Homo sapiens: one gene and its partners. The protein of the gene in region 1 interacts with the protein of each later gene in a pairwise test. Each region holds a gene or a part of one and is shown in the gene's direction. Other genes may lie near its edges.

The links.
Region 2: the proteins of ELAVL4 (region 1) and PALMD interact in binary tests that used the Homo sapiens proteins (3 or more experiments, as listed by UniProt).
Region 3: the proteins of ELAVL4 (region 1) and TM6SF1 interact in binary tests that used the Homo sapiens proteins (3 or more experiments, as listed by UniProt).
Region 4: the proteins of ELAVL4 (region 1) and ZKSCAN8 interact in binary tests that used the Homo sapiens proteins (3 or more experiments, as listed by UniProt).

What each region holds. Positions count from the first base shown.
Region 1 is NC_000001.11:50,195,916-50,202,953, forward strand, and holds part of ELAVL4 (ELAV-like protein 4), read left to right. Parts: intron 1-1,513; coding exon 1,514-1,552; intron 1,553-4,893; coding exon of another isoform or gene 4,894-4,935; coding exon 4,936-5,263; 3' UTR 5,264-7,038. UniProt on the Homo sapiens protein: RNA-binding protein that is involved in the post-transcriptional regulation of mRNAs. Plays a role in the regulation of mRNA stability, alternative splicing and translation.
Region 2 is NC_000001.11:99,691,113-99,695,073, forward strand, and holds the end of PALMD (palmdelphin), read left to right. Parts: intron 1-2,906; coding exon 2,907-2,950; 3' UTR 2,951-3,423; downstream 3,424-3,961.
Region 3 is NC_000015.10:83,110,607-83,117,644, forward strand, and holds part of TM6SF1 (transmembrane 6 superfamily member 1), read left to right. Parts: intron 1-2,131; exon of another isoform or gene 2,132-2,190; coding exon 2,191-2,294; exon of another isoform or gene 2,295-5,102; coding exon of another isoform or gene 5,103-5,135; intron 5,136-5,238; coding exon 5,239-5,336; intron 5,337-7,038. Other genes in the region: HDGFL3 (hepatoma-derived growth factor-related protein 3), read right to left, coding at 5,103-5,135. UniProt on the Homo sapiens protein: May function as sterol isomerase.
Region 4 is NC_000006.12:28,151,860-28,158,897, forward strand, and holds part of ZKSCAN8 (zinc finger protein with KRAB and SCAN domains 8), read left to right. Parts: coding exon 1-77; intron 78-401; coding exon 402-525; intron 526-1,196; coding exon 1,197-2,158; 3' UTR 2,159-7,038. UniProt on the Homo sapiens protein: May be involved in transcriptional regulation.

The sequences.
Region 1 (7,038 bases):
CTCCCCCCGAGCCTCAGTTTCCATTCCTGTAAAATGAGACAGTTGGAGCAGATGCCCTTCTAAGCCCTCTTCCAATTTACTACTGTGACTGTATAAACTTTAGATTCTTTGGTAGAAACAAAATGTCTGTATTTAACCAAACATGAAGGTTCAGTTTCAACAAGAGTTAATCACAGATCAGTGACCACATTCAGCAGATTAGACTTAAGGCTGGACAGTGGCTTTTAATAAATTCAAAAAATAGACCATAAGGCAGATCCTTGCCAGAAGGAGTTGTTTTTCCTATCTTCTTTTCCCTCGGCAGGTAACTCTGTTGAGTTCAGGGGAGGGGGAAGTGCCTTTGGTGTTAACCTTATTATGTTAAGTCAGTAGATTCTGGGAAGATAGGGAGGAAGATCCTGTCCAAGCCTGATTAGTGTTTCCTTCAAGTACCCAACCCCCAGGAAGCTCCTGGGGCAGGGGGGCATTGCCCTTCTCCTGGGACTTTTCTAAAAGACAGGTTTCTCTCCATGAAGGCAGTATGACCTTGACTGGTCTCTATTATACAAGAGATAAAAATATGTTTGACTTACCCATGATAAATTCTAAACAATTACTTTATTCCACACCACAGCCCAGCTTCCCTTTGATGAAAATGTTTTTCTCTTTGAGAAACTTCACATGGGAAATAGTAGGTCCTTCTATCTAGGATAGTATGCTCCATCTGGCTACATGAGGAGAAAAATCATCCTCTTTCGTGTCCTCCTATGCCCTGTGAATTTGAAATGGTTAATGATTTCATGAAGAGTCCAAGTCATCTAATTTTTATTTTGCTTGAGAGCACATGCAGTATTTATGTAAAAAGCCTCTCCAGCAGACTTCTAATGGTGGAAACTATCGTTACTACTGCCCTATGGTGTGAATAGCTTGTCCCCAAGTAAGGTAGTGAATGTGAGGAAGATTATAGCGTAATGGCAGTTTGCTGGGAGGTGCTATCAGGCAGTAAACAGTAAGCCACTTTTTAAAAATCTTAACCTGCAAACTCCCCCTGCCTCCCAAAAATGTGTGTAGTAAGATGATTTAGTTAATGTAGCAAGGCTAACAGAAAAGATCTGTTCTGATACATATTGTGTGCCTGTGTATTGTTAATCTGGAACAGAGACCTTTATTTACAAGTTTAATTATAGTAAAAAGGTGAACAATTTAAGAAGCCCCCGCTTTGAACAATTTCACTACAATATAAAACAAAATCCACACAAATGTTCTGAGAGGTGGGGGGAATGGTATTAATTCAGACCTTGAAAGAAAGGGAGACTCATTAGACACTTGCTTTAAACTCTAGCAATGACCTGAACATGAATTACTTGCAGTTAGAGACAGAAAAGGGGGAAACTACCGGTGGATAGACTCCTAAGCAGTGGGGAAAGTTGTTGAGCTTTTCTTCTTTGAAAATGGAGCATTCTTATTAATAGTTCCATTGAGCGATCTTGCCATCTGTGAGGCATTAACCCAGAGACCCTCCTTCTCTTTGCAGGCTGGACAATTTGCTTAATATGGCCTATGGCGTAAAGAGGTAATTAAAACTCCACAGATTGCCAGATGTCCATGTTGGCACAGACTGGGGCTAGAATTTTTTTTTTTTAATTCACTAACTTTACTTTAAAAGAAAAAAATTCTTCCTTTTTCTTCCACCAGCATGTCAAATTCTTAATTTTAATTTCGGACCTCAGTTGATTTTGTTTCTTTTAGGGCACACAAAATGTATTTGTGTGTTTCACTTTTTCTTTTATTTGCAGGTGGGCTTCTCCTATGGTTCAGGTGCCACAGCTACCAAGCCCTTAATAATCTGGTCCTTTGAATGGCTCCCCTAAGGGGAAAGGCTCCGACTCTTTGCTGGCTGGTTTTGCAAACTTGCAGAGCAAACTGTTTTGCATTAGCAATGCCAAGATTCAGTTAAGAGGGCAGATTCCAGCAAATCAGAATTAGAACATTTTGCTAATTGTGGTTGACAATCTTATGATTTTTCAGTAGAAAAATTAGATTTTGGACTACCAGCTCTGGCCAAAGGATAAACAAACACGTGGATGACTTTCTAACTCCTGCCCCCACTTCAGTGTGCATTTCAGAGCACATCCTGAGAATGAAGTGTATCTGTGTGCACCTCAACCAGGGGTTTCTTTTGTTACAGGTTTTAACAGTTCTTATAAATCCTCCCTTGGTTATATGTTATGTGTGTTTTAAACTTGCTGTTCCTGTCACTGAAAGGCTTTTTGTGGGGTTGGGGGCCCAGAGTCAAGGCTTTTGGGGCTCTCTGAATGCAGATTCAAAGTTTTCCAGACCCAGTATGAAATCTGAATCTTGGAAAGTTGGGTGTGTGATGTCACTGTGTCCATGAGATTCCCATATGTGCTTCTGATAAGCTCCACTGCACTGCTAGGGACATAGTGTCTTCATCATCTTGCTCAGTAGAGCTGCACACTTTAATTCCCCTTCCTACAGTCAAGGGAAAGAGATGTAGTCTTTAATAGTCCACATCACACCCCCAGTTCTTTCACTGGCCATCCATGGTAAGTACCCTGACTCTGGGAACTGGTGCATGGTAGAGGAAGTAACCTGACTGCAGACTTCACTATCAGAGGACCGGCCTTTCAAATCTCAATCCCAGCATCAATGAGGATAACTATGAATTATCTCCACATTTCCAGCACACTGTTTGCCTGTTCCCAGGGATTTTACATCTTTCCTAGCTCTATCTCATTCCTTTGCTCCTCTCTGATGTTAGTGAGGTAGTGCTAAATGTTGTGAAAAGAGAAATGCTTATAAATAGATAAGATAGGGGAAGACACAGCTGTAGTAGGCCTGCCACCACCTCCTCCACTGCCCCACCCAGAGTAAACATCACTAGCTGATAATAGCATTCTCTTTTCCTATTGAACCCAGATTTGGATTTAGAACGCTTCCTACCAAAATGCTGCAATTAACTGTCACCAACTAGGATAGAGGCTGTACTTGCAATCTCTTTGCTGGCCCTGACCTTTGACTTATAATAAATACTTAGCTGTTTTCTACCTATAAACAGAAAGAGGTCAGTTCACCAGGGTCAACTCACTTGGTTGGAGGATAGAATATTAAAAAGACAATCTTCAGAAATGATACAAGTTACAAATAGACATGGATTTGCACGTCTAAGGATCTACACCATGATATTTTTTGGCTTTTTCTTGTTAATTGTTTTTAAACAAGAGGGAAGATTGACTTAGTGAATAATAGCAAAAATATTGTCTATTGAGTTGTTATATTTAGCATATATTCAGTAGCCATTTGATTATCCAAATTCTAGTTAGATACAGAACTATTCTTTAATAGGACTTTCAAATCTCCAAGAATATTTGCTTATTTTTAAAAACAGTTGTAGCTCACACTTTACACCATGCTCTTCCCTAGTTTTTGCTTTCTCTCCTTTTCCTATCTCCCCCAGTAAAACCCTGGCCAAATGAAAAGCAAGAAACTATTCAGTGTATAGCATCAAAAATCCGTATATAAGCTCATGCCTGTAATCCCACCATTTTGGGAGGCCAAGGTGGGTGGATCACCTGAGGTCAGAAGTTCAAGACCAGCCTGGCCAACATGGCAAAACCCCGTCTCTACTAAAAATACAAAAAAATTAGTCAGGCATGGTGGTGCGTGCCTGTAGTCTCAGCTACTCAGGAGGCTGAGGCAGGAGAATCACTTGAACCCGGGAGGCAGAGGTTACAATGAGCCAAGATAACGCCACTGCACTCCAGCCTGGGTGACAGAGTGAGACTCCATCTCAAAAAAAAAAGAAAGAAAGAAAGAAAGAAAAAAAAAGAAAAAAGTCCCTATGTAAGTTTGATATGAAACAAAACATTAACAAATATTGTTCTGCTATAGGCACTGGTAACCTAATTGTTTCATCTGGTACATCCCTCACAAATTACACAAGGATTTATTTCATCAGACAGTGAATAGAATTTAAAGGGTCATTTTTTCTTTTCAGGATTGCACAAAAACTGAGAAGATTTCTAAACCTAATACAAAAGCAGTTGTAATAGGGCAAATAACAATTCTATGCTTTTCTAATGTATAGCGATTCAAGATATATAAATGCACAAACCACTTGCAGTCTTGCTTCAGTGATACTTAGGAATAAATTCCAGATAACATAGCATAAAGGAGTAATACATCTTTATTATTATTGCTTGAGTTTGTGGGGGAAACCCTTTTGAATAAATGCTAAATGAAACATGAACCACCCATCTGTTTAATAGCAAGAAAGGCCTGTTCATTGTCACGTATCTCCATCCTCACCAAGAAACATTTGACAACCGTAGGTCAAGGGAGTGCAAAAATGGTAGACTTAAGCACTTTAGGGCCATCTCCTAATCTGCCTTTAAAAAAAAAAACAATGAAATTTCCCAAGCACTGGCCAAAGTGAGTCACTTATTCAACCAATAAATATTTATTGAGCATTTTCTATGTGTCACTATATCTGTGAGATTCCCATATGTGCTCCACTGAATAAACAAATAGAGCCACAGAATGAATGAAATAGACCCTTTCCTCCAAGAGCACATTGTCTATTGTTGGGGTGGGGTGGAGTCGGGGTGGGGTGGAGTCAGGTTGGGGTGCGCTATGAGCATATACTGTGATAGAACTGTTACAGAGCCTTGCTCTGGGAGCCCTGGGAGTCCCTTATGGTTTTTAGAAATTGACCTAGGTCTTTCTCTCAGCATGAACATGCCCTAGCCAGTCAAGCCATTCCCATCAGAGGAAATGACATAGACATTAGTTTTTACATTTTGGTTTTTGAACCCTGAAGACTCTCCTGTAAACACTCACTCAGCCCTCTGCCCCATGTCTGTGTCTGTGCATCTGTGTGTTATCCTTGGTCAGACTGATGTCTGGACCAGTCCCCCCTTCTGCTTGTCCCCCCAGGTTCTCCCCAATTACCATTGATGGAATGACAAGCCTTGTGGGAATGAACATCCCTGGTCACACAGGAACTGGGTGGTGCATCTTTGTCTACAACCTGTCCCCCGATTCCGATGAGAGTGTCCTCTGGCAGCTCTTTGGCCCCTTTGGAGCAGTGAACAACGTAAAGGTGATTCGTGACTTCAACACCAACAAGTGCAAGGGATTCGGCTTTGTCACCATGACCAACTATGATGAGGCGGCCATGGCCATCGCCAGCCTCAACGGGTACCGCCTGGGAGACAGAGTGTTGCAAGTTTCCTTTAAAACCAACAAAGCCCACAAGTCCTGAATTTCCCATTCTTACTTACTAAAATATATATAGAAATATATACGAACAAAACACACGCGCGCACACACACACATACACGAAAGAGAGAGAAACAAACTTTTCAAGGCTTATATTCAACCATGGACTTTATAAGCCAGTGTTGCCTAAGTATTAAAACATTGGATTATCCTGAGGTGTACCAGGAAAGGATTTTATAATGCTTAGAAAAAAAGAAAAAAAAAAAACAAAAAATACCTTTGATGCATTGAATGTTCTTTCATAGCTGTCGTTGTTGAATATAATATACATAGATAGCGATGTGCAGGGATTTTTACCCAGCCAGCTAACTTTACTACCTTCCTTGAAGGTGGATCTTTTTAAGATGACCATTCGCTCATTTGAAGAAGAAAAACAAAAAACAAAAAAAATAATAAAAATAAAACAATTTTTACAAAGTAATGGGATTCAAAGAAAGGAAAAAAAGATTTTTCTTTTTTGTCAAAATATCGATCCAATCAGATTGGTAAAAACCCCCACACAAATTAAAGAGGAATAATAAAAATTGCAAAAATAAAAAAAAACTTTTGCAAATTTTTTTATTTTTCCTTCTTTCTTTTATATCATGTGAACTAAAACAGTCTTCTGTTAGGGGATGGGGGCAAGGGGGATACCTGATGACATTAACAATTTAATAACATTAACATTGTTGCCAAAGAGGTGGTCTCTTTGCTGAAAATGGGTTTCAAGAAAAATCTATTTTTATAAAATATAAAGAATTTTTACAAGAGAATCTGGATTTGAGAAAAAAATATTTTGACTGGCTAATTTAGGGGAAATTGACAACTTTGTCGCGTTCATACTGCACTGGTAACTTTTTAGAGATCAAGATGTGTGTTTTAAACTGGATTCGTAGACTGTTTTTTGAAGGATGGGCTATAAACAGATGATCTTCATATCTTTTCATAGCATGTAATAATAATTAAAAAACAATTATTAATTACTAGGGGAAAGGAGTGTTCGTTCTACCCAGGGTACCACAGTTCCCCACAGTCAAAACCCAAAAGCAAGGAGATGAGTTGAAAGACAGTTTTTCTTTAAGTCATCAGTATGGGATGTCAGCAGAACAAAAATTAAAAAGATTAATTTTCCTTTTGATCTAAAACTTCCTTAGTTTGAGCAGTAGGTGCTACAAAATTATTTACATATCTTAGTATCATAGTTAAATGTAATGTGTTTAGGAGAGGAAAACAAAAGATACATTTGCTTTAAATTCATTAAGAAATTTTCAAATTCACTTTGTAGCCCATGCTGATAGAATTGGGCTGTGTTGGTACATTTGAAACACTGTTTATGTTGCTTGAAACACTTATTTATTTAATCGCCGATGTGATGATGCCTATGGCCGAGATCAAATATAGCTAGATTGGCTAGACTACTTATTTGTTTACTTAAACTATGGGAAGAAGCATATTATTGTGTCATTCTGTTGTGTGTGTATGTGTATATACAATATAAATATATATATATAAAGTTATTTTTTCTTTGGGTTAATTTATTATAAGTTGTAACACTTGGCTAGTTTTGTTTGTATATGTCTTAAAATGTTTTCTTATGATATTTAAGTGACAGTTAAAGAGGTATCAAGGTAACTTGTGTAGAACTATTCTTTGATATATTGTCATGTTTGTTGTGAATATTTTTTCTTACTGCACAGTAGAAAAATAAAAACAACTGAGTCTTTATTTTAATGTAACTCAGATTGGGGAAAACAAAACAGAGCTAAGGGAACAAAATGA
Region 2 (3,961 bases), about 49 Mb from region 1:
AGTTGCAGATACTAAGTTTCTTTCCATCTTAAGAGAGAGCTTTGGTCACTGATCAAACTTTGCCATCTTAAACTCATTTTAAAAACAAAAAACACAGAAGACTTAGAAGAGAGGAACACACTGTTTACGGTCAATAGCAGTGACATTATCCACTATAAAACCTCCCTTTTCTGAACTTGGATATTAGCCAGCTCCTCCTGAACACCCTTATTTCTTCTCCTCTAACCTTGTCAACACATTTACCCCATGGAAAATGACAGGAAGTGACTAACATTTCCAGACAACACTAATCATGCCCCTGAACTAAAATAATGAAAACAGGAAAACCTATTCCAGACAAAGTAACAATACAGAGTTCTGTATTATCAATCAAAGTATCTTATAAACAGAATGCTCCAAATTCCTTGCCTTCCACCATGATATTGTTTTACATTGCTGTTTTCCAATTCGGCATACAGACTACAGAGCTGATGTGTATTTTTTAAGTAGGTTTTAAAAATAAGTAAGTCACAGTGTCATATGCCCTCACATGCCATCCATATACAAAGAATACATAACCACCTACGTACTTCCATTTCACAAACACCAAGTGGGTTGAGCTTCTCCCCATAACTCCCCCAAAAAACGCTTATGATACTTGAAAACTCACCATTTAGGTCAATTCCTTTATTTATGGTATAAATCCCCTATTTAATATAAATAGCCCTGGTAGGCATAATAGTTAAGAATTGTTAGTCTCTTTTCCCTTGGTATAAATATGGTTATCAATACCTTATCTAAGAGCAATTTTAATTTGGAAAACAGCGTGAAGAAGAAAGAAATGGAAAAAGGTGGACCCTGGAGATTCAAAAGACAAGATTTTTTTAGTCAAAATTTTGAACAGAGTAAGACATGACAGAAAAATTCAGGCAACATTATGTCCATCTGCTTAATGTAAATATAACATATTCATAGGATAAAGCTCAATGCCAGACACTTCCACCATTGCATGGCCCCAGCCAGCTTTGCATGGGAACTCACTGCTACCCCTACCAATCAGGGGGTAGTAGTTGGCTTTCTTTGGTAGTCCTCACCAACCTATTCTTGTACTTCCAGCTCTATTCTGTCCTCTTAGAGGTGTCAGTGGCATTCCAGGATGAAGTGGTGGGGATCTCAGCTCTGGGAGTTCATATGCTACTGGTGCTGATTGCCAACCTGCAACAGCCATTAGAGTCCAAGGGATAATGAGAGTAAGGAGACTTCTATCAAGTTCAGCCAGCTGAAACCATGCATCTAAAATGCTATGGGAAGAAGAGGCAGGGATCAGACAGGAGCAGAAAATAGAAGTAAAAAAGAGAGCTGATGGCCCAGGGTTTTTAGCTGCTAAACCAAGCCTTCTATTGCCAACATGCTCTGGCCCCATGCATTTACTGGAACTCACACTACCTACTTGCCATAGGCTTGAAAAAAGGAAAGAAAGGAAAGCAGACTCTAGCAAACTTCTCTGAATGTCCACAGCACACAGGATGTGCCTGATTTACGGAATCTTACAGTGAGGAGTGACTGTAAGAAAAAGCAATTTGCCCGTGACTTATAAGAGACTCAAAAAGCCCCTCACTCCTACTCTCTTTTGTTGGTAGGGGCAAGATAGAGGTCCATAAAATCCAACAGTATAAACTTCATAAAGACTTGCCTTCTGCCTTCTGCCTTCTGTTCACCTTCTGCTATGTAACTACAGCCTCTGCCAGCAATCGAGACCTGCTTGCTACAGAGCACATTCTCTCAGTTCATCCTAAATTCTAGGGAATATTCTTGGCCCTGCCACTAGAACTGATCATCCCTGTTAAAGTTTCAAGGGAAATAATGCTCTTTAGCTTCATTGAAATTAAAATATTTCATATAAGTGGAGTGACAATTAAAATAATCATGGTCTTGTTACAGAATTAGATCCCATCCCTTCTCATATTTGTGCAAAAAGGTTTCTTAGGTATGGGGTCATTTCCATTGTCAAAAGGTAACCAATATATGGTATACAAATGAGAAAACATGTCTTCCATTTTACTTTCCATGAGACAAAATTGTGCAATCAGTTACATAGCTTGTTCTTGGGCCATATTACATGTGAATGTAATATTAGATCATTAACATAATCTTTAGATCAGTGCCTTGAAAGCATCTATCAACTTTTGGAACATGACTAAGGCAGCTCTACACTGAAATCCTAAATAATAAGAATAGAATACCAGAATACTCATCCAGAATACCAGAAAAGTGTTATACATTCTAAATCTACATTTTAAAAAATGCTTTCTACATTCAATATATTATTAGCAGAGGAATATATCCAAAAAGATATATTTGCCATTTTAAAACATACTTATATCTTGACAAAGACATTTTATAATCACTCCAGCTTTTAATAACTTGTTCCTGTTGTTTCATTCGTAAAGAAATTTGTTTTTGTTATTGTATATCCAAAGGCCAGAGCTCCTTTGGGAAAGGAAGTTGAATGAGCTGAAAGCAAACACGATCATGAAATAGAGTTTAAGTGTAAACACCATTTTATTTTGGCAGTACATAACTCAGAAATGTATGTAAAACAGTCATCAACCTATAGGAATCTGTATGTATGGCTAATAGGGAAACTGTGCATTAATCCTGTATTTGTTCCACTTGTACTGTTTGCTCTACTAATTTTTCTAATCTTTATAGAAATAGGTTCCTTCTAGTTCTGAACCTGCTTCTGCCCTAAGTTAACCATAGCTTATTATTTCTACTATCTTTTTGTGCTACTAAATCAATGCTCACACTGTTGGATAAAACCATCTGAGGTATGTTCTAAACTTTCCTGCATTCTATGAATGGCCATTTAGAGTAAAAATTGAGGATTTTTTTTATAACTCTCTTTTTTTTTCTTTAATTTGCAGCTTTAAGGATGAGAATGGCAAAGCTGGGAAAAAAGGTGATCTAAGAGTTGTACCACCTATATAAACATCCTTTGAAGAAGAAACTAAGAAGCATTTGCAAATTTCTCTTCTGGATATTTTGTTTATTTTTTCTGAAGTCCAAAAAATTATCATTACAGTGTACCATATTAAGCCATGTGAATAAGTAGTAGTCATTATTTGTGAAAAATTCCCAAAAAGCTGGGGAAAACAAATGTGTAACTTTTCCAGTTACTTGACACGATTCAGTGGGGGAAAACCAGCATTTTTTATTCTATTGATACCAAAGCATTTCTAATAAGAGCTTGTTAAATTTAAGAATAAAGTTATTTAAAATATTCTGAGTATAGTATATTAACTGGCATTGTAATTTTGATGATACAAAGATTGAAAGATCATAGGAAAGCATTGCCCTTCATCACAGAAGTATTCAACTCTGACAAATAAATATGTCATCCTGAATTAATAATGCCTTAATAAAAGTACATCCTCCTGCTAACTATCACTTCAGTTGGTTTGGTAGAGACTTCAAACCCTTGCACATATCCAAAAGGTGCATCCCGTAATGATCCTCAGATTTGGGGACTGAGTTTGGATAGTCCGGCCAGTGCACAGATGATAACCGGCACATTCATTCTTCTTAAATTATCATCCTTTCTTTCACTCAGTTCAATGTGAACCCTGTGGTGCAATGACAGACTATGACCTCAGGGTGTTGGATAGAGGATGTCCCATACCCTCAAAGAGCACAGATCTGGTCTAATATTTCACTGATTCTTGTGAACAAGTTAGACAGGGGTGGCCCATCTTTTGGCTTCCCTGAGCCACATTGGAAGAATTGTCTGGGCCACACATAAAATACACGAACACTAACAGTAGCTGATGATCTAAAAAAAAACGCAAAATAATCTCATACTGTTTTAATAAAGTTTATGAATTTGTGTTGGGATGCATTCAAAGCCATCCTGGGCCACATGCGGCCCGCGGGCGGCAGGTTGGGCAAGCTTGAGTTCGAATCTTAATATTAAAACTAATAG
Region 3 (7,038 bases), on another chromosome or scaffold:
GTTGTCACCTGACCACCACCTGCCTCAGGCTGTTCACCATTAAAATGCCTGTCAGCTGACCCAGCACACCCACCTCTTCCCTCATGGGATTCTTCAGCCCAGCATCATACTCTTGACCCACACTGGCTTCCTCCTTCTTCAGCTCATCCCCACAGGAGGAGCCTGGAGCAACCACTGAAGTGCAATCACCAGAAACCTCCTATTTTTCAGTTTCTCACCTGGACATTGAAACAGCCACCCTCATTCTTTTTTAAAAAATGTAATTAATTGTTATTATTTTTTGAGACGGACTCTTGCTCTGTCATCCAAGCGGGACTGCAGTGGTGCAATCTTGGCTCACTGCAGCCTCCAACCCCCAGGTTCAAGCAATTCTACTGCCTCAGCCTCCCAAGTAGCGGGGATTACAGGCATCCGCCACCTCGCCTGGCTAATTTTTTGTATTTTTAGTAGAGACGGGGTTTCACCATGTTGGCCAGGCTGGTCTCCAACTCCTGACCTCGGGTGATCCACCCGCCTCGACCTCCCAAAGTGCTTGGATTACAGGTGTGAGCCACTGCGCCCGGCCTCATTCTTATCATAGAATTGATCCATCTATCATTTATCCATCCATCCTCCATACATTCACCCATACTCCATCCATCCACTCATCATCATCTATCCATCCATTTATCCATCATCCTCCATCATCCATCAATTCATCCATCATCCATCCATCCATTTATCCATCATCCTCCATCATCCATCAATTCATCCATCATCCATCCATCTATTCACCCATCATCCACCCATTCACCCATCATCCATCCATCCATTCATCCATCATCTATCCATTCATCCATCATCTATCCATCCTTTCATCCATCATCCATCCAACCATTCACCCATCATCCATCCATCTATCCATCCACTCATCGTCTATTTGTTCCCCCCTTCCCTCCCTCCTTCTATTCTTATCTTTCTCTCTCCTAGGGGACGGTGATAGTTATCCAAAGGTCCCGATGTTGGGCTGTGGTGGTGTGGAGGGGTCTCAGTTGAGGAGTGGTGCTTGTAGCTGCTCCAATCTGAAGAGGTCCTGGTGTAGCAGGCCATTGGAGTGGGCCAGGTAGTATTTTGTCTAGAATTGGAAGCCCTGTCAGTGCTGGAGGTGTGAGAGGGAGAGTATTGCTGTTGGACTGCAGGAGAACTCCTAGTGGGTAGAGCTCAGAGTCCATTGAGATAGGTTCCTCCATGTAGGCAGGGACTTCTCTTATTTATCCAGTCTCCTAGGGCCTGCAACAATGGCTACCACATAGGGGTGCAGAATACATTTTTTTGCTTGCTATGTTTTTGAATTAATTAATAAACAGATAGATGCAATGATGTGACTTTCCTAGGGTGACACAGTTAGCAACAGAATGGGTACCAGGATCCCGGTTTCCTGACTGATAACTCTACCAAGCCTCGTGCCCTATCGCTGCCCCACTGAGTAGCGGCTTTGGCCCCTGCTGTCCTTGGTGCCACTCCCTTTCCTGTAGAACATCCAGGGGATGTACTCAACTAAGCTTCACCTTGGTTTCTATGGTTTGGGGTTGGATGCTGGTCTGTTGGCCCTGGTTCTGGGGTGTTGGGCTATCTTCATTCTGGCCTCAGGTCTAGTCCAGACTCCTTCTCCATGGATTTCCTGGCCTCATTCTCTGGCCCATTTGACTATACACATAACATAAGGTCTTTCTTGTCCCCTGGAAGGCATGTTTAGTTGTAATGCCTATATATTCCTTGGAGCTCAGTCTGAGGGTTTCTGACTGGCCCTGAGGGAGGTGGCAGAGTCAGTGGTGAGGCCTGTCAGCTGCTAGGGAGCAGGGGTTAGAGGAACGTGTAAGTGGAGGCAGTGGGGCAGTGGCCATAGGTGCAGCAGGGTGGGGTGAGGCAGAGGGAGCTCCAGACGTGTCATCTGTGCACATGAGACAGGATAAGAGGAGAATGAGGAGGACCTGATGGCTTCGGTCCCTGAAAGTCATGGGCTGCAGCCCAGATGGGCCAAAGAGCTGCAGATAAACTTCACTAACTCTACAGTGCTGGGAGCTGCAGGCAGAGGCAGAATTATGGATGAATTATGCAGCACTAGGAGGGAATGCATTCAATAGTCAGGAAATTCCAGGCACCAATGTGTTTATTTTGATAGTGACCACCTCCCTGTTCTGGTCGTTGCAGTTCCTGGACTATTGTAGGGGTTGCTGCCCTCATCCTGTTCCTGGTAGCACTGCTGGCTCGTGTCCTCGTCAAAAGAAAACCACCCCGGGACCCACTGTTCTATGGTACGTCTCCACAAAGGGAAATCTTTTGTATCTGATTAATAACACAATACTTTCAGCCTCAGTCACATATTCCTCCTTGGTTGTGAATACTCTGAGCCCTTTGGTAACAGTGGCTGCAAGTGTAGGGGTGTTTCAGGACAATCTGGCCCTCGCCTCTGGCTATTGCCTCTCAGGCAGTGGACTCCACCCTCTCCCAGGTGGCATCCCGGTGGAGAGTTACTGCCAGGCCAGGCAGGGCACCCTGCCAACCCCAGCATGCTTTGACCTCTGACCTCTGACCTCGACTCTCATGCTAGCTCCTTCCTGGGCTTCCTGTCTTCAGCCTGCTACTAGCAGTCCCCCCCACTTAGTGCAGAACTTAACTGTGTGGTGTCTGGGTCTGCACATATGCATGAAGAGGAAAATAATGGAACCTGCCATAGAGACAAGCACCTATAGTGCACCTTGTATGACCCTGAGCACTTTAGCAGCAGGCTTTCACCTAATCCTCACCATCCCTCCACTTGAAAGTGAAGCAGCTGGCTTGGAGATGCTAAGAAATGTGGCAAAGGTCGTGTGGCTGTTGACCCCTAAAGCCCATGCCCTTCCATCATGCATGCTGCCCCAGCCAAGCTGCTACCGGCCTTTGAGCACTTCCTGTGCCAGGTACCTTGCTGGGCATTTTGTTCTGTAGTTTCTGCTTCAGTAATGCTGCATATCAAATGCACCCCAAGTCCTACAGCAACAAACATTTATTTTTCTTGCTCACAGGTCTGTGGGTTGGGGCCACTCTGCATCAGGCTGTGGGTTGATTTCAGGGCTGTTCTCTGACTCCTTGTTCTTGGACCAGCAGCTCCCAGGCATGCCCTTCTCATGGCAGATACAGAGGCACAGTGGGGCTAGAAGGAAGAAAGTGGTGGCTCTTAAGGCCTTGGCTTGGAGCTGCCCCATCTTACTCCCACCCATATTCCAATGGCTGAGATGAGGCATAGGGCCAAGCCCATCAGCAACAGCATAGGGAGCATTCTCTGCCTACAGTGGGCCTTGGGAAAGGTGGGGTGGGAAGGAAGAATTGTGAGTAACTAGTTTCTCCCAATCCACATATAAGAAGCTCTGAAGCTTCAGAAATGATGTAATTTGCCTAAGGTTTTACAGCCAGTCATTAGATGAGCTGGGTCCGTCTGCTTTCAAGGCCCACATGCCTTTTCCTGGCTCTCTCCACTAGCCTGTGCTCTGACCCTTGCACACCTTTCCAGATGAGTTTCCTGCTGCTGTCTGTCCCTCCTGTTCCTCCCCACTCCATGGAGCCTGTATTAACTGTACTGATGTCTCTCCTGACTCTTCAAGGCTGGGCACCCTTTCTCCTGTACCCTCAGCCCTCTGTCCTGGTCTGTTACAACTTTGAGTACACTGCAGCCTCAGGGTGAGGCTCAAGGCCAGACTCCTCACGTACTAGAAGGCAGAGACCATGTCCTTGTCATTGCTAACACAGTGTCTGACACTTGTGTTGTCATCAGCAATCATTGGCAGATTATGTGCCGAACACTTCCTTTCTTGGAGACATATGATGGCTAATCACCTGGGAGGCTTCTGGAAAATGAGTATCAGGAAGTGACACTGCCAATGAGAACTGGGCCAAAGGCCCCCATGGAGGCGTGGGGAAGGCACATCTGCAAAACAGGGCACATGTGGCCTTTTGTTCCTTCTGGGGAGAATGTGAATGCTGGACTCCTGGCTGCTGACTCCAGGCAAGGCCGGCTTCCCTTCTCTGTGAATTAACCATCCCCACACTCCTCTCCATTTCTTTTTTCACAGCTTTTCTTATATTCACCATCAGATTTTTCTTCTGTCCATGTCCATCCCATAGTCTAAGGCACCAATCTGTTACAACTTGAAAATGCAGCTTTGACAAACTAACATGCACTAAATTTGATCACCTGCTGTTTAAAAAGTATTATTTCTTAGTTATTTGTGCTAGTAGTTTTAAGCCCATTTAGGAGATGCTCACAACTCTGGTAAGATTCTCTGACAGGTATAGCTTTCCTTCTGTCATATTCAATTATACCCTCTTGTATTCATTTTTAACATCACTAGTCTTTTTTCTGAAAGCCATTGTCACTTGCACATCAGCCACCTGTCTGTCTCTAGGATACGCCATGTGGAATAGGGTAACCACACTGGACACGCTGTGAGGTGGCCTGCTTGGGAATCATTGAGATGAATCACTTCGTCAAGTCATTGTCTTTTTTTTTTTTTGAGACAGAGTCTTGTTCTGTCGCCCAGGCTGGAGTGCAGTGGTGTGATCTCGGCTCACTGCAACCTCCGCCTCCTGGGTTCAAGCAATTCACTTGTCTCAGCCTCTGGAGTAGCTGGGATTACAGGCGTGCACCACCACACCCAGAAAATTTTTGTATTTTTAGTAGAGACGGGGTTTCAATATGTTGGCCAGGCTGGTCTTGAACTCCTGACCTCAGGTGATCTGCCTGCTTCAGCCTCCCAAAGTGCTGGGATTACAGACTTGAGCCACCATGCCCAGCCTGAATCATTGTCTTAAACTTAGTGGTCACTTCTATGCTTCCTTGGCCACTCAGTTACTGGCTTTGCTCCCACTGCCCATGTGGGATGTGGGTTTGATTCTGGGCAGCCACTTGTAGGGGAGTGGAGGATGGGTGGAGTTGGCCTGCTAGAATCTTCTGTGACTGAGCCGGCAGTGACCATCATTCTCCACTCCTGTGATGAGTGTTCCCTTGATGAGAGTACTTAGGCAGGGATGGGGAGAGCTGCGAACACAGGTGGAGGTCCAGCTGGGTGTGTAGAAGGGGTATTCTGTTAGTCTATCTCGATAATTGTCCACAGCATCTTCTGGAAAACATGAAAAACATTCCATTATTATTAGCTGATGCCAAGCTTGTAGTAATTGTCTCCTGAGCTATTGCTTTTTAAACTGCTGCTTTCTTTGCTCTAGTGTATGCAGTTTTTGGATTTACCAGCGTGGTGAACCTCATCATAGGACTGGAGCAAGATGGAATCATTGACGGGTTCATGACACACTACTTGAGAGAGGTATGGGATCACTTAGTGATTATGAGGTTTCAACCAAAAGGCCACAACCCAGATCACATTACTCAGAGACAGAAATCCTCTCATTTAGTGTGAACAGGTACGCTACGCAGGCTTTCATTTCCTATAATAGCCTTAGGTCGCTTAGTCACATGGAAAGTGGAGCAGAAAGGACGGTTAGATCACGAGAGGCAATTCTCTCCAACATTCAGCTCTCACGGCTTCTCTCACTCATGACCGCACACATGACCTGCTTTTCCCCTTTATCTGTATTTAATATAAATAAGGTACCTTAAATGGATTTAGTATTTATGTGTCTGTTAATACATGACTATCTCAGAAACCCCAAGTCAGTCTTAAATTTGTAAAGTACCCAACACAGAGGCACTTGATGAAGTCATTTGATTGTGATGGCTTGCACTCTCCACCATGCTGCCCAAATCATAGCTTTGATACTACCTGGTACTCGAGAGAGCTAGTCCTATTTTCTTATTTTATGGTGGGCTGAACCCAGCCCCAGAGAGGTTAAGTGACTTATTCAAGGTGACACAGGAAATGAGGAAAAGGGCTCAAAGCAGATTCTTCATCCATGTTCAGATAATGGGGAGCTTTGTATGTACGCTGTGGGAGTTTGGGTTTTATCCTGTCTGTGAGGGAAGATTTTAAGTCAGTGAAGAATACAGGCAGCTCTGGGAAGGATGGGCTTGCAGGGAAGGGTCCGTGCCATGAGCTGGGGCACCAGTCAGGAGGCTTCCTCGGGACCAGCAGGGGCATAAACGTGGCTGGATGGAGGCAGCGCATGGGAAGTAGAGAGAGGGATGAACTTTAGAGAATCGGAGTGGCTGGAATGAATAAGACTTGGGGACAAATTGGGAGTGATGGGAAGGATGAGGCCTAAGACAGTGTCCTGATTCCTGCTTTGGAATTTGGAAGAATGCTGCTGTTTTTACACCAGAGAGGGATGACAGGAGGAATTTATTTCTGCAGACATTTGTTGAAGGGGACTCTGTGGTCAGAAGACCTGCTCCCTGCCCCCTGGGAGCTCCCTGCCTGAAAGGGTGGGGAGATGGAATTGTCCCAGGCACAGTGAGAGACTCACTCCAGGCACAGAAGTACTCAGAGGAGGAATTAAGTCTGGGTGCAGTCGGGGAAGGCTTATTGAGTTGGTGACACTGCTGTAGCATTTTAAAAATGGTCATGGCAGTGGAAGATGGACATTTCCAGATGGACCAGGGAGGTAGGGGGAATTCCGGAGAGAAGGGACAGCTTGGGCAAAGGCTTGGAGAGGAGAAAGAGCATGTGCCTCTCCCTGGGGCACCAATCTGCAAGGATGAGGCTGAGTTTCTATGGGGAGGTGGAGTTTCAGATGCTGGCAGGGCTTTGCAGGTCTTGAGCTCTGAGGAGCAGTCCTGGAAGAGAGAGTCACGGGCCATCGGAGTGCAGTTGGTACCTGAATGTCTGAGAGGAGAAGGGCTTGCCTATGAGAAGGTAGAGAGAGAAAAGGGCTGAGCTTGGGACTTTAGAGACCATGGCCAGAAGAAGAGAAGCCCCTGAAGTGGACCATGGGGGGCAGGCCAAGAGGCAGAAGGAAAACCTGGAGAGTGGGGGCCATGGAGCCCAGAGGAGGGAGGTTTTAGGAAGGAGGCGGCTGACGAGAGGGCTGGAGGCTGAGTTGGCAAGGGTGGTAAGCATTGGGGCAGACGGG
Region 4 (7,038 bases), on another chromosome or scaffold:
AGAGTCCTACTCGTTCCCAGAAAGGAAGTTCTGGAGACCAGGAAATGACAGCTACACTTCTCACAGCAGGGTTCCAGGTGAGTTGTGCTCCTTCTCACTGAAACGCCATAGCTGTGCTTGTCAGTGTTTGTGGCATCTGCCCTATATCTTGACTGTCTAGTTTGTAGCAGTACCTACCCAAAAAGTTGTCCCAAAAATTCTTTTGCCTAGGGACAGATTGATCCTGAATTTCCCCCAGTAAATCTCATGCATTTTCCTCTTCTTCCTAGCTATTCAGATCCCTTTACATAGTACATTCCCAAGTTGTAATTCTCTCCCAATACTGGTGGATCTCTCAAGCTCTATAGGTTTGAGCTGTGGAACAGTCCCAGTCCCCAAATGGGGATCTTGTTTTGTTTCAGACTTTGGAGAAGATTGAAGACATGGCTGTGTCCCTTATTCGAGAGGAGTGGCTTCTTGATCCATCACAGAAGGATCTGTGTAGAGATAACAGGCCAGAAAATTTCAGAAACATGTTCTCCCTGGGTAAGGAGAGGTGTGGTTATTATTGTCATTTTAGATTTTTTGTTTGTTTGTTGTTTATGTGTATAGTAGCTACAGCCTTTCTGAAAGACATAGTTAAGTTTAACTCAGGATCCAGCAGAGGGATATGATGTTGAGATTTCTTGAAATCTTACGTGAAACTTTTGTTCTCCTGTCCAGAACTTCCTTACATTTTGTACCAGGGTACTGGCGTTTTTGCCAGTTGGAAATTGACATCTCAGAGGTGCTCTCTGAGTTCATATATTTCTTCTCCAAGTTGTCATGGGATTCCTACATATATTTTTCTCACATAAATTAATTGTATCTCCTCCCTTTTGATGACTGGGCATTTTCCCATTTCTGTCCTGCTCATTAGTTCTTTTAGTAGTTCCATATTCCTCTCCCCAACTTTCACCTCACTTCAGTTCATCCTTTCCTGACTTTAGTTCCCCTTCCAATTAACTCTCTTTTTTTAATGGTACCTCTTTCCCAGTTGACTAGCTCATATTAAGCAAGGTCACTATTAAGAAGCTATTTTGGAGACAGAAGTTTTGTGTTTACTTATAGCTGTTCATGTGTACTTTCCTTTTCCCCTATCTTCAGTTCCTTTCTCCTAGCATAAAGAATAGGTTGTGACATTGGCTTGATGTTTGTTTATTACATTTTTATTTCAGGTGGTGAGACCAGGAGTGAGAACAGGGAATTAGCTTCAAAACAGGTAATATCTACTGGAATCCAGCCACATGGAGAGACAGCTGCCAAATGCAACGGGGATGTTATCAGGGGTCTTGAGCATGAAGAAGCCCGAGACCTTCTGGGCAGATTAGAGAGGCAGCGGGGAAATCCCACACAAGAGAGACGACATAAATGTGATGAATGTGGGAAAAGCTTTGCTCAGAGCTCAGGCCTTGTTCGCCACTGGAGAATCCACACTGGGGAGAAACCCTATCAGTGTAATGTGTGTGGTAAAGCCTTCAGTTACAGGTCAGCCCTTCTTTCACATCAGGATATCCACAACAAAGTAAAACGCTATCACTGTAAGGAGTGTGGCAAAGCCTTCAGTCAGAACACAGGCCTGATTCTGCACCAGAGAATCCACACTGGGGAGAAGCCATATCAGTGCAATCAGTGTGGGAAGGCTTTCAGTCAGAGTGCGGGCCTTATTCTGCACCAGAGAATCCACAGTGGAGAGAGACCCTATGAATGTAATGAGTGTGGGAAAGCTTTCAGTCATAGCTCACACCTCATTGGACATCAGAGAATCCACACTGGGGAGAAGCCCTATGAGTGTGATGAGTGTGGGAAAACCTTCAGGCGGAGCTCACATCTTATTGGTCATCAGAGGAGCCACACTGGGGAGAAACCCTACAAATGCAATGAGTGTGGGAGGGCCTTCAGTCAGAAGTCAGGCCTTATTGAACATCAGAGAATCCACACTGGAGAAAGACCCTATAAATGTAAAGAATGTGGGAAAGCTTTCAATGGGAACACTGGTCTCATTCAACACCTGAGAATTCACACAGGGGAGAAGCCCTACCAATGTAATGAGTGTGGGAAAGCCTTTATTCAGAGGTCAAGTCTCATTCGACATCAGAGAATCCACAGTGGTGAAAAATCTGAATCCATAAGCGTTTAGGAACAACATCAGTTAGAGTTTGAGCATTATTCAGCATTAGGGAAACCACACACTGGTGAGAGGTCTTTCAGTGTACTAAAAGGCAGAAAGGTCATCACAACTTTAGTGTCAGAATCTATAGTGGTGGCAAAGTTAGGATAGCTCTTTAGTAATTTGGGCCCAGTGCCTTGGTGAAGGTTGATTAGCTTGACTGTCTTTGAAAGTATCTGATGGAGCTCCTGATGACCTAATGTATCCTTTAGAAATTTAAAATAGCATTAGAGCAAGTTGCTTGTCATGGCTTGAAGAGCTTAACTTTGTCTTTTGGGTGAGTAGCTATAGGTTTGAGAGAGGCTGGCTACTCCTAGTTCCTGTGCTTCTTCCCATCTCCTGTGATCCCCCTCTCCCATTTATTCCCTTGAAGGTGCCCTTGTATTCCTAATCTGATCTAAGAAGCTGCTGTAGAGTCAGAAGTAGCTTCTGTGTGAAACTTATATTTGTATGTAGCTTTCTAGGAAAATTTTACAGACACTTAAAGTATTTATGCTTAAGTGTGCATTTTTTTATTCTAATATTCCTTCTAGTCAGTGGAAATTTGTATTCCCATACAAACTCAGAATGCTATATTTTTAACAGCACTCCAGCATTTTTCTTCATGTATCACCTTCACTGACTCCATTGAGTCATTGAGCATCTGTACATATCCTTCACCACCCCCAGTCCCAGCACCTGTGTCAGTAAAGAAAGTGGACACATTAGTAATGGTTATGGGAGTAATACAGAGAAAGAGGTGAGTGGAGACTCAGCCCAGCTGCTCTTGAGCTTGGATAGTTATACATTTTGGTGACTTCTGACTCTCCTTCCACCTCCCCACTGTACACTGTGGTACAGATAGTTGGCACTATCCTAGTTATGGCATCAGGTAGGAGAAGGAGACGAAGATGCTTTAGGAAGATAAAAACCTTACAAAGAATGTATACTCATCTTTTTTGGCCCATTACAATACTGCTTTCTCAGGTTCTTAACAGCCTGTGCAAACTCCCTGACTAGATGGTCTGTCACTCCTATCATTACCTTGCACCCATCTCTTTAGATGGCCTCAGCACCTCACTCGTTATTCTCCATCTGTTTCTTGCCATTAGTTTATATGACTTTAATATCCACAGTGGTAATCTAATACCTTACCTCACAGGTTTTCATTCTTTTGAACTCTGGTGCACTCCATCTGTAATCCATGTCTATAATCTACCAACAAAGATGTACTCTTAAACTCAGTATCACCAGGCACTATATTTCATCTTTGAGGCTTTTGTTATACCAAGGAATACTATATAAAGTAATGAGACTGGTTTAAAGTAACATGCCAGAACTTACGCATCCAATGTGGGTTGTCACTTGTTATTCCCAAGTACTATTATTCCATACTACTATATTCTTCCAAATATTTGGAACACTCTTAGAATTCCCATTTAATAAACCATATGAGAAAACCCTCTATTACTCTTACACTTTAGTTTTACCATTTGAGTAGCCACTTATTCACCAGAGTTGGAATTGAGAAATTTTGGGCTTTCCAAAATTAACCTTTAAACTTAAAATTGATTACATTGAGCCTATTCAGAAAAAAAATTATATAGGTTCTGATGAAAGCTTCATAATTTCACCCTGTGACTATCCTGAAAAGAAATAATAATCATTTTATGATTGATGGGCCAAAAAAAGCAATCAAAGTCTTACGTCATAGAGGACCACCTTTTGGATCATAAATTCTTTCCCTATAACATTCCTTCTCTGCCTCTCTATGGCCCACTTTGACCACTAACAACATCAGAATTATCTACATCAATTTCATTGAGCCATTGGTGAATGAAGACACCCATCACTTGTCATGTTGGTTTCCAACAGTCCTTTCGATTATCCTTTATTTTCTTATCCTCCCTTCTCTTGTTTCTTTTATTTATAAGTTACCATTCCTAGTTTCTTTGTACTTGAAATTTTAAGAAACCAGAAACAAGTAAATCTGGTTGTATCTAGATCTTTGCTCTGTGTTTCAGTTGTGCCTTACCCTCTGTAAGATACTGATTCTTCCTGGGGCCAGTATTACCTTGTATGCAAATATTACATATGATGGGTGCATTGTCAGAGGGAAAATATATGTGTATGTACACATGTGTATGTACACACACACACACACCTGCCATACACTTTAGAAGAACGCTTCTCTTCTATTCCAATAAAAAGTCCTTTTAGCAATGCAACATATTAACAAAATTGGGTGCATTCAGGGTGGTATGGCCATAGACCAGAGCAACACATTGAAATGTATACAGATGTACTAGCTAAAGTCTCTTTATGTGTCAGTATTAAGAGTAATATGTAGCCAGATTACTTAAATCTCAGAATTACTAAGCATGTGGCATAAATTTGGAGAAAATAATATGACTAGAAAAATTAGTGTTATATTGGGTGTGAGAAAAGACTGTGTCTTGAAAGAATTATCAAAGCTGATACAGCACATATACAGAATTAGCCAAATGGTATAAGACAATAGAAAAAGGCTGTGGATTCTTTGAGGACATCACTAGAAATCATTCTTTGTCTCAAGTTCACACTCTTAGCATAGAATATTATTGACTAGGCTGTATGACATTTTGAGCTCTTAACTGTGAATGGCATTCATTAAGCTCCTTTATCCTATAGATTCTATCTTTATGTTCATCTGAAATGAACTATTCATCAGTACTTTCTCCTCCCATCCTAAGCTTCTCATTTTAGGAACTGACATGATAAGGTGGTTCTTTCATAACTCTAATGCCATCCAACATAGCCCTGGGAGAGGCATGTTAGGTTTCAGAGATTTTCTCCATGGAGCAAGGTGCAGTGCTAGAATATGGTGGTTGATTCCCAAACAGAGCAGTTAACTTTACTCTTGGTTCTGAGTCTCCAAATAATAATAGCCGACGTTTATTGAGCACTTACTATGTGCCCAACCCTGTTATGCCTTTCTCAGGCTCATGATAAATGTATTAGTCTGTTCTCATGCTGCTATTAAAGACATACCTGACACTGGGTAATTTATAAAGGAAAGAGGTTTAATGGACTCAGTTCCACATGGCTGGGGACGCCTCACAATCATGGTGGAAGGCAAGGAGGAGCAAATCATGTCTTATACATGGATGGCAGCAGGCAAAGAGAGAACTTGTGCAGGGGAACTCTTTATAAAACCGTCCGATCTTGTGAGACTTATTCACTATCACAAGAACAGCACAGGAAAGTTCTGCCCCCGTGATTCAATTACCTCCCACTTGGTCCCACCCACGACACGTGGGAATTGTGGGAGCTACAATTCAAGATGAGATTTGGATGGGACACAGCCAAACCATATCAATAGGTATTATTTTATCCCCCATTTTATAAATGAGGAAACGGAGGCTTAGTTGAGTGAGCTGACCAATATCACCCAGCCAGTATGTGATAAAACTGATTCTGACCCACACAGTTTGATTCTAGAGCCTGTTCTGACTACTGTGCTAAGGTGTGTATAATGAACATGGTAATTCTAACCAGCTTTTTAAAAATATGTAGCGCTTGTCATGAGAGGTACTGGGGAAAAGAATGTGCAGTAGAGTGCAAATACATTACAATTACTGGAAAATTGGTGGAAAATGCTTTTTGGGGTTACAATTATATCATTTTTAAGTGTTGATGCTTTGTAGTACTACAAAGCTAAATTGTGCAAACAAAACATATTTAACAGAGTAATTGGGAGGATAAAGCAATAATAAATTCAAATATATTTTTCTCCAAACTGCCAAAGGGAAAGTAGAATTGTGGAGGGAAATGAAATATCCATGTACCAGGCCAGGCAGATGGTCAGTTAGGATGACAATAGTAAGTTCATCTACAGCATAAAATGTGAAATGCTTTCATCCTCATTGCCCATTTCCAACTACCATTCTGTTTCTCCTCTATTGTTCATGGTTTTTCAAACATATCTTTGATTTTTCAACCCCCCTTTTTCATTAATCTGTTCTTAAAACTTCTTTTTACTGGCTTTCATACTTAGCATTCCAGTGAAATGTTCTTAGACTCACCAGTGGACAAATAATAAGGCCTTTTTTTATTATTATTTCTTGTCTTTTTTGATCTAATTTATATTTTATATTGTTGAATTCTCCCTCCTTTGGCTTGTGGGATCCTTTTTCTCTAATATCTGTCTTTCTTTTTTTAGTTGATCTTTCCACCCACTCCCCTTTCTCCTCTTCTCCACTGAGAATAATCTCCCTGTCTTTTATTCACTTCATTTTCTATACTCCTATTTATCCATTTTGATTGTTTATACCTACTATTTGTATTCGAATGACTTCATTTTTCCCACCCTGTGGGTCAGTTTGTGACTTTTGGAATTTTCCACAGGTACCTGTACAACTTGATATTTGAAAACAGGATTCATCACCATATATCCCCAGCCCCCGTTTTCTTTTTAAACAGGCCTCATTGCGTAATTCCTTTGCCCTGAAAAGTGTCACCACCTTTATATTTTTACCCCAGCCTTGGAGTTATCTTTTTCTGCTCTCCATTCTCCATGTCCAAAAACTTGCTGTCAGTCCAGTTTTTAATCAGTTTTCTCCTTGAGGCTTGATCTCCCATTTCTCTCATCCCATTATAGCTTTTCATGTAGATCTGAGGCCCAGGTTACTGTAATTCTTTTTTTTCCAATTTCCTTGCTCCCAGGATCCCCATCTTGTATAAAGTTTCTAAGGTGCTCCTCCTCAAACTCCATTTTTACAATATCCGTATTGTAAAATTTTCATTTTCAGTAACACCCAGTAGATAATTTTTCAAAGACGATCCTCCTCAAACACCCATTTTTACAATATCTCTATTGTAAAATTTCATTT